Regions from separate parts of the Homo sapiens genome. Here region 2 is linked to region 1. Evidence: fine-mapped expression QTL. A gene starts in region 1. The other region holds a variant in brackets. All regions are shown on one strand. Distances are from middle to middle. Region 1 holds the start of LINC00944 (long intergenic non-protein coding RNA 944). Region 2 overlaps LINC00944 (long intergenic non-protein coding RNA 944).

Region 1 (4,400 bases):
GTTGTTGTTGTTGTTTGTTTTGTTTTGGCTACATGGGTTTGAGTGTCTTGCTGAAATACGGCCAGATTTTCCTAGAGTAAGTGATGAGAGAGAACAATGCCTTTTATTTTCATGACTTAGCCCAAAAGCCATATGTAGTAGTTTGTTTTCATACTGCTAATAAAGACATACCTGAGACCAGCTAATTTACAAAAGAGAGAAGTTTAATTGGACTTACATTTCCACATGGCTGGGGAAGCCTCACAATCATGGCAGAAGGCAAGGAGGAGCAAGTCACGTCTTACGTGCATGGCAGCAGGCAAAGAGAAAGAGAGCTTCTTCAGGGAAACTCCTCTTTATAAAACGGTCAGATCTCATGACACTTACTCACTATCAGGAGAACAGCATGGGAAAAATTTCCCCCCATGATTCAATTATCTCCCACTGCATCTCTCCCACAACACATGGGAATTCAAGATGAGATTTGGGTGGGAACACAGCCAAACCATATCACCATATATTATTACTTCTGTTTGTAAATTACTTCTGTGAGTAACTCATTTGGACTCTCACTCACTGAGAGGGGAAATAGACTTAACATGATAAGGGAGGGTTTGTTAAAGAAAAATTTGTGGACATATTTTAAAGGCACCTACCTAACAAACAACCTCAGAACCTCAGTGGTTTGAAACAATAAGGTTTATTTCTCACTCATGCTATAGGTTCTTCAGTGATCAGTAGAGAGGTTCTGTTCATTATGATCAGATGCACAGGACAAATGAAAACCACTGTATTGAATACTATAGATCACTCTGGAAGAAGGAAAACAAGCTTTGGAGAGTCTTCAGCCAGCAGTTAAAGACCCCCATCTAAATACCACATTATTAGAATAAATAACAAAAACCACATAACCATCTCAGTATACCCAGAAAAAGCATTTAACAAAATCCAACACCTTTTCATATACATTTTTAAAAAACCACTCAATAAATTGGAAATAGAAGGTAAAGGACATCTACAAAAAACTCCACAGCTGTCATTATAGTTAATAGTAAAAGACTGAGTTATTTTCTCTTAAGATCAGGAATAAGACATGAATGTCTACTCTTATAACTTCTATTCAAAATTTTCCTGAAATTATCCAAGATAATTAGGCCAGAAAAATAAATAAATAGCATCCAGTTTGGAAATAAAGAAGTAAGTCTATTTATATTCAAACATGATATGACCTTGTGTATGGAACATCTTAAGAAATCCACTTAAAACCTATTAAAACTAATAATTAGTTGGACAAAGTTTCAAGATACAAGATCAATATACAAAAATAAATTGAAATTCTATATGCTAAAAGTAAGCAATCCAAAAATGATTTTAAGAAAATATGTAATTATATTTATAATAGCACTCAGAAATAATATGATATTTAGGAATAAATTCTTAAAAGGAAGTGCAAAACCTATGCATGTAGCACTAGAAAACATTGTTGAAAAGAATTAAAGAAGATTTAAATAAATGGAAAAAAATTCATGTTTGTGGATTGGAAGACAATATTGTTCAGATGGCAGTACTCCTCAAATTGATCTATAGATTCAATGTGGTCCCTATCAAAATTCTGGCTGGATTTGTTGTATAAATTGAGAAGCCTATCATAAAATTCATATTGAAACACAGGGGACTTAGAACATCCAAAACAGTTGAGAAAAATAACACATTTAGAGGACTCACACTTTCCAATGTCAGACATTACCCGGGCACAATAATTAAAGAGTGTGGTATTGGTATAAAAAAATGACACACAGACCAGTGGAATAGACTTGAGAGCCGTAAAACGTACCGTTACATTTATAGTCAATTGATATTCAACAAAAATTCCAGACAGTTGAATGAGGAAAAAAATAGGAAAAATAGTCTTTTCCACAACTGCTGCTGACAAGTATGTTTTGGATCCCTTCCTTACACCACACACAAAAATTAACTCCAAATGATCCACAGACCTCAATTAAAGAGTTAAAATTGTAATACTCTTAGATGAAAGTATAGGATTAAATTTTTGTTGCCTGGGTTAGGCAAAGCTGTCTTAGAGACAACACTAAAAGTACAAACAACAAAATATTTTGTTACTACCTGTCTTCCTGATGTGCGTCTAGTCTAGGCTGTTTTTCTTGTTATTGTTACTGAGACGAGAAGTCTTCTTCCGACCGAAGGTTCTTCTCAATCGAAGGGTTCGTGGTCTCACGGCTTCAAGGAATGAAGCCGTGGACGGCAGTGGCGAGTGTTACAGCTCGATTAGAGAGTGTGCTGCGGCAAGATTTATTAAAGCGAAAGTGAAAGGAAAGCTTCCACGTGGGGGAAGGGGACCTGGAAGGGTTGCTGTTTCTGGCTTGGGTATCTTATGCTTACATCCCCTTATGACCCCTGCCCTCTTCCTTTTTCTGTCCTATAGAATCAGCTTATTTTCTATCTGCTTGTGGGTTGGCGGGCCTAGTTGGTTAAAAACATCAGGCTGAAGCTAGAGCTTAAACTCCCTATATGACTGGTTCAAGTTTCAACCACTTAGCTTGCAGCTATGAGTCAGTTTGTCTTAGGGGAAAGTCCCCTTTGATTGGTTGAAGTTTCCATCCCTTAGCTTTCAGCTATGACTCATTTTGGCTTAGGGGAAAGTCCCCTTAGGGAAGTCCCTATTGACCCAGGAAGTCCAGCCAACTTAGCCACTTAGTCCCTCATTACAACTCTTCCCATTTAACTGAATGAACCACTCCTTTTTAAAAAAATCACCACTTTTTTTTTTTTTTTTTCTTAGAGACGGAGTCTCGTTCTGTTGCCCAGGTTGGAATGCAATGGCGCGACCTTGGCTCATTGCAGCCTCCGCCTCCCGGGTTCGTGCCATTCTTCTGCCTCAGCCTCCTGAGTAGCTGGGATTACAGGCGCTGGCTAATGTTTGTATTTTTAGTAGAGATGGGGTTTCACCATATTGATCAGGCTGATCTCAACCTCCTGACCTCGTGATCCACCCGCCTCGGCCTCCCAAAGTGCTGGGATTACAGGTGTGGGATTACACCGCACCTGACCTAAAAATCACCACATATTTTAAAGCACTATTTGTCTCAGGGCATTGTGGGATTTCAGTGATGAACTGGATTTAGCTTTTAGGTTGAACAGGAAACGTCAATAGAATTTTCGGTTTTCATGTCAGTGCAGATCTCGCAAAATAAAAATAAATGTGGCATTGGCTCTAAGGGCAGGGCCCATACACTAGTCCAGGCTATTCTGTAAATGATTAACACATCTCCAGGAGGAGATTGCCGCCCCAGAAACACCAATTCTGCTAAATACTGAAAGCAAATCTCACACTTGGGTTCTTGAGATCCCATAGAGTGTGGCTTTGCCATTCTAATCTCCTGGGGAGAGGGGAGATGTGGCAGGAAGAGACCACTGCACAGAAGACTCCTAGGCTGATAAGAATGTGTGAAGATGACCTGCAGATGAATATGCAAAGGAGAGTGCATGGAGACCACCAGCAGAGGACTAAATTAGAAGAAACAATCTGGAAGGGTGCAGGCACTGGTTTGGCTGCCATTAGTCTGAAATCCATACAGGAATTCAGAGGGGAGACACATGTTGCTAGAGAGACCAATTCAGGGCTAGAGAGAGGCAGAAGTGAATCTTCAAAGACAAGAGCTAAATTTTCAGCTGTAAGGAAGGAAAGAGATATTATACCAAGGTGCCTTGATTCTGATGGTCATGGTAAGTCATTCATTCATTCATTCATTCATTCATTCATTCATTCATCTGTTCGTTCATGCAGATTGTGGTGGTGGCACACAGGAGTTTAGTTTCAGACATATTAATTTAAAGATGCATAGTAGATATCTAACTGGAGACAGGTATTGGTAGTTGGATGGAGGAATCTTGAAGTAGGAAGAAATATTCAGGCTGAAGATATGAACTCTGTGATTTTTATTCTTATGTTTTTAAACTATTAATATATACCTTTTTCTGAAATCAATGAATTTCCCCAAGCAACTCCAGACAGATGTCTGGGGCCTCATTTATTTATTGGTTTCATAAATCTGAGCCCTCTTTGATTTAGCGTTATACAGCCAGCCCATCCCGGGCCTGATCTTTGCCATCCTAATCATGAACTAAGCCCCTGCCATGTAATTGTGTGTCTACTCCTCTGCCTCCGGGGATTGTAAGTACAGTGTTCTTCTTTATGCATCAAGATGTTATTGCTGAGATGTGAATCATGCAATTGCCAGGAGGGTCTCTGATCCCAGCTGCAACTTCTCCATTGAAGACTAGCACGCCCTACAGGGGGTTCAGAATAAAGGGAACCTCTTGACCACCCCTGAGAGCCCAGCCAACCAGCAACCCCAATGCATGAATATATGGCCATGACCTCAGTAGTGATTGCTCTCTCT
Region 2 (4,400 bases), 24 kb before region 1:
GTTTCTTCCACATGTACACATCATGAGAAATATTGTTCAATCAATATCTTCCCTTAAATCAACTCATATGCTTATTTACATGAATTTACCTAAAACAGAAACTTGATATCACTTCTGTAAATGAAAAAATTAAACTTTCTGGCTTTAAATAAAGCATAACAATAATAATCATGTCAAAATTACCTCTCCAGTGTTATGAAGTTCAAGTTAGGGGTGAAGATTCCTGAAGGCCCTGGTCCTAGGTCATAGTTGTTCCTGATTAAAGGGGAGACGGACAAGTGTTCAAAAGGGTCAAAGACATAGTCCCCTCAATTGAGACTTCCTTCTGAAATTAATCAGAAAGTTTAAAAGAGAGTTCTTCCTCATTTTGTTAATTACTTTCACATATTAATATATATTAACATTTTATATGGTAATATGTTTTTGACATTCCCCTCTAAAATGTTCTCATGGGCTGGCAGTGGTTTCTTATATTATGGGAGCCCTACTCTTTACTGAATTTTGTCCTTCTGTCATAGGGTAAAACTTTTTCGTCTCTACAGAACTCTCTCCAAGTGCACACCCATAGATTGGTTTGCTTGTGGAATCCTAGCATATCAGAAATGAAGGAATCTCAGAAATTGTTTTCATCAAACACCTCATATGCAGAAGGCAAAATGAAGGTTCAGAGCAGAAATGATTTGTCCAAGGATGCAACACTCATCTGCAGCAGAGGGAAGCTGAGCTCTGCAGACCCACCTAGCACTGCAGAGGCAGCCCTCTAGGACAAGGCTTCATAAAAAAGTGACTTTATGAGTTGGCTCCATAAAAAAGATACAGATTAAGAAATTGTTTAAACAGTGATCTCTATATAATTACTCTTTTATTTAAAAGTATGGGCTGGGAGCGGTGGCTGACGCCTGTAATCCCAGCACTTTGGGAGGCCGATGTGAGCAGATAACCTGAGGTCGGGAGTTAGAGACCAGCCTGACCAACATGGAGAAACTCCGTCTCTACTAAAAATACAAAATTAGCAGGGTGTGGTGGTGCATGCCTGTAATCCCAGCTACTCGGGAGGCTGAGGCAGGAGAACTGCTTGAACCCAGGAGGCAGAGGTTGTGGTGAGCCGAGATCGCGCCATTGCACTCCAGCCTGGGCAACAAGAGCGAAACTCTGTCTCAAAATAAATAAATAAATAAGTATTCCTTTCCCAGTCTTTTGCTGTGTGGAGCCAAGATTTTTATTTGCAGAAGTCTGCAGGGCTGGTGTGATCTCTTTCAGTCATAAACCATAACCTTCCTAACGGGCCATCTGCAATATCCAGTTGTGTTTTCTCGAATGTGGGGAAATGACTTAAAGACACTTCAGAATCAATTGGAGGAAGGGACCGTTCCAGAGCTTAATTTTCCGTTGTGTTTTAGAGTTCTGTTGTCCACACCTAATTTGTCAGAAATGGTTTTAGTCATGTTGTTTTGTAGAATCTTTCCACAGCATTTATGCTCCTTTTCATAGAAGCGGCTCAATCTGCTCACGGATTTATATAGTATAGATTAAAGGAGGGCAGTGTAATAATGCCATAACAGAGGCTGGTACTAAGCTTAAAGCACCCCTGATGGGAGCAGAAATGCCCTGGCAGCTGGAGAGAGAGCCAGCACCTAGAGCGAGCGCCCCCTGCTGGCCATGGAGGGGAATGGAGGGTGTGGGATCCCCTGCAAGCAGGTTAAGTGGAGGTTGTTTCAAAAGCTTCTTCTCTAATCTTTCTGGATACTACAGATGATTTACATGAAACTCAGTGTGATGCTTTAATAGACCAATGAGATCAAGTTAACAAATAGATCCTAGAAATTATACTATTTTTAATGTTTGTGAAGTACCTGCTCAGCCAGGTGTTGATGGAGGACAGAGGATTAAGAGGAAGCCTTGAGTTACAGGGACCGAAGCAGCTGCTGTGTGGATTCAGATCTGGGCGATACCGCCCCAAGGCTCGTTCTTCCAGCATTTCTATCATTCTCTCTCTCTGTCTTATAGGCAAATGAGATGATGTTTCCGGGTCAATACATGACGGGATTAACTGGGATAGAGAAAC[G/A]TGGTTTTAGGATGTGAGTCTCCAAAATTTCTATGGTTCAAATGTGGGATCTCACATGATGGTCTTGGGCAAAGAGAATATCATTGATTCTCAAGATTTAAACACAGGAGAGCCTCTCACTCCTCCCAAAGCTACGAAGGGGATGGAGATGGCCCAGGGACATTCGAATCGGAACTCAAGATCAGTATTGGAGACCCCACCCTGTGACATAGACATCATGGACAAGTTCCTTGAATGTTGGAGCTTTATTTTCCTATTTGATAAAATGAGAATTATAGCTTCTGTGGAGGGCACGGGGGTGGTCTCTGAGGATCACAGGAGATAATGCACATCGAAATGCTTTGAAAAGCATCAAGTACTGAAAAATGTCCAGCTTAGCTATTAGTAACAGTGACTGTGTTGGGAGTCTGGGCTTTCTCCTGTCCAGCTAGAAACACTTTTATTGTGCTATTTTTAGTGTTACACCTGCACATGCTTGTTTGAGCAGGTATTAATGGTATAAAGATGCCAGGCTCAGGCCCACAGTGGGCCAGTTGTTCTATAATTTGTTCTATAATAGCATAACTTGACAACAGCTAAATGCCATAAAATGAATTGAGGATGGGGTGTGGGGGTGAAGACACTGCCTAACTCCTCCCCACTGTTGGGGAATGATATCCAGCCTGTCACCCACTGATGGCAGGTTATGTAGGAGAAGCAGATCTATTAAAATAGAAGCACAGCTGCATGCCATGATTACTTCTCTAAAGTTATTGTCTAGCTCTGCACTTGATCCTCCTCTGATAATACTCAAGAAATAGAACACCAAAGTTTGCTTGTTTTAAATTTGGTAATTAACGTCTGTTTTGCTTACACTAATGGTTTCTCGCGGGAAGGATGCGTGCATTATTAAATGTTGCTTAAGGAAAAGAAAACGTTTTGTGTTGGTTAACAATTTTTGACTACAAATAATAGAAAACGATACCAAAGCTGGCTTAAGTAAAAAAGTAATTTAATGCTTTCTATAAATAATAAGCCAGGGGTAGCATGGCCAATTTATCCAGTAGTCTCAATAGACACCATGCCTGAGGCCCACTGTACTATTAAAGGGTTCATGAAAATATTTTAATTTTAATTTATTTTAAAATTAGAAGAAAAATCACTATAACAATATTTTAATAGAGTAGGAATCCACAAAGCAAAAGCTTCTGAAGCACCCAAAGTCATAACATAGCCCTGAGGTGTAGGCCTGCCTTCAGCCTTCATTTGCTATCAAGAACACACCAAACTCCTTTGACTTCCCCCTGCTCTCTCTTCTTTTTTATGCCATGCTGTTGACATTCAAAAATAGGCTTTTCCTTTGCCTCCTACCATCATTTACTCTGTTCACCCCACTCTAGCTCCCTACTCTCCTATTTCCCCATACTCCAAGGCTGTGTCTGCAGCAGGATCTCTGCCCTGGGTCTTCTCTCTGTCTGAAGTACGTTTCTTTCAGGTAACTTTCTCATTTTACTTGCTCCAGGAGTATTCTTGGCTTCTCAGAGAGACTTTCTTTTATATGTAAAAAGGATAATGAGGCCAGGCATGGTGGCTCACACCTGTAATCCCAGCACTTTGGGAGGCTGAGACGGGAGGATCACTTGAGGTCAGGAGTTTGAGACCAGCCTCGCCAACACAGTGAAACCCCGTCTCTACAAAAAAAATATATAAAAAATTAGCCAGGCATGGTGGTGGGCACCTGCAGTCCCAGCTACTCAGGAGGCTGAGGCAGGAGAATTGCTTGAACCCGGGAAGCGGAGGTTGTGGTGAGCCAAGATCATGCCACTGTACTCCAGCCTGGTGACAGAGTGAGACTCGGTCTCAAAAAAAAAAAAAAAAAAAAAAAAAAAAAGATAATGGATGAATCAGTGAAAGACAGATGCACCAGCCCAGACTTCAAAACCTCTGGATGTCAGCTTCCACGCAAAAGGGTGAGAATCTCATCTGTAGATGACCCAAGGGAGTCTCCCCAGCGCTCCTTAGCTCTCCCCAGTCAGTGCTCCTTAGCTCTCCCTGGCTCTCCCTTAGCTCTCCACGCCCAAGCCTGAGCCAGTCACTGTGGAGAGAGGCAGGAACACACTGCTTGGCTTAGCTGTTATTGTCTAAGTTTCCTCTGTTAGCAGAGGTTGGGTTCCACACGGGCAGAACTGAGAGTCGGAGAGGGATGGTTCTTCAGCGGGAAAGAAGATACAGTTACCAGAAAGGCAATCAGAGTGAATTTACCTGCAGAGCAAAGATAATGCCTGTTTCTTAATTTCCCACTCTAGAATTTTCTTTTGATTAGTTTTGTGCATCTATATTGCTTCACATCTTGATT

The links. PIP is the estimated chance that this variant, and not a neighbour inherited with it, causes the effect.
Region 2: its variant is fine-mapped to the expression of LINC00944 in whole blood (TOPMed, PIP above 0.99).

The regions. Positions count from the first base shown.
Region 1 is chr12:126,769,976-126,774,375 of GRCh38, forward strand. LINC00944 (long intergenic non-protein coding RNA 944) reads right to left here and starts at 2,287. Exons shown (of 5, transcript NR_033878.1): 1 at 2,104-2,287. RefSeq lists enhancers at 1,861-3,060, 2,536-2,615.
Region 2 is chr12:126,746,078-126,750,477 of GRCh38, forward strand. LINC00944 (long intergenic non-protein coding RNA 944) reads right to left here. Exons shown (of 5, transcript NR_033878.1): 2 at 1,854-2,050; 3 at 184-255. LINC00943 (long intergenic non-protein coding RNA 943) reads left to right here. Exons shown (of 4, transcript NR_038256.1): 4 at 1-179. Among named protein-coding and RNA genes, the nearest start is that of LINC00943, 11 kb to the left of the region's middle. The variant G/A (reference allele first, on the strand shown) is at 2,066.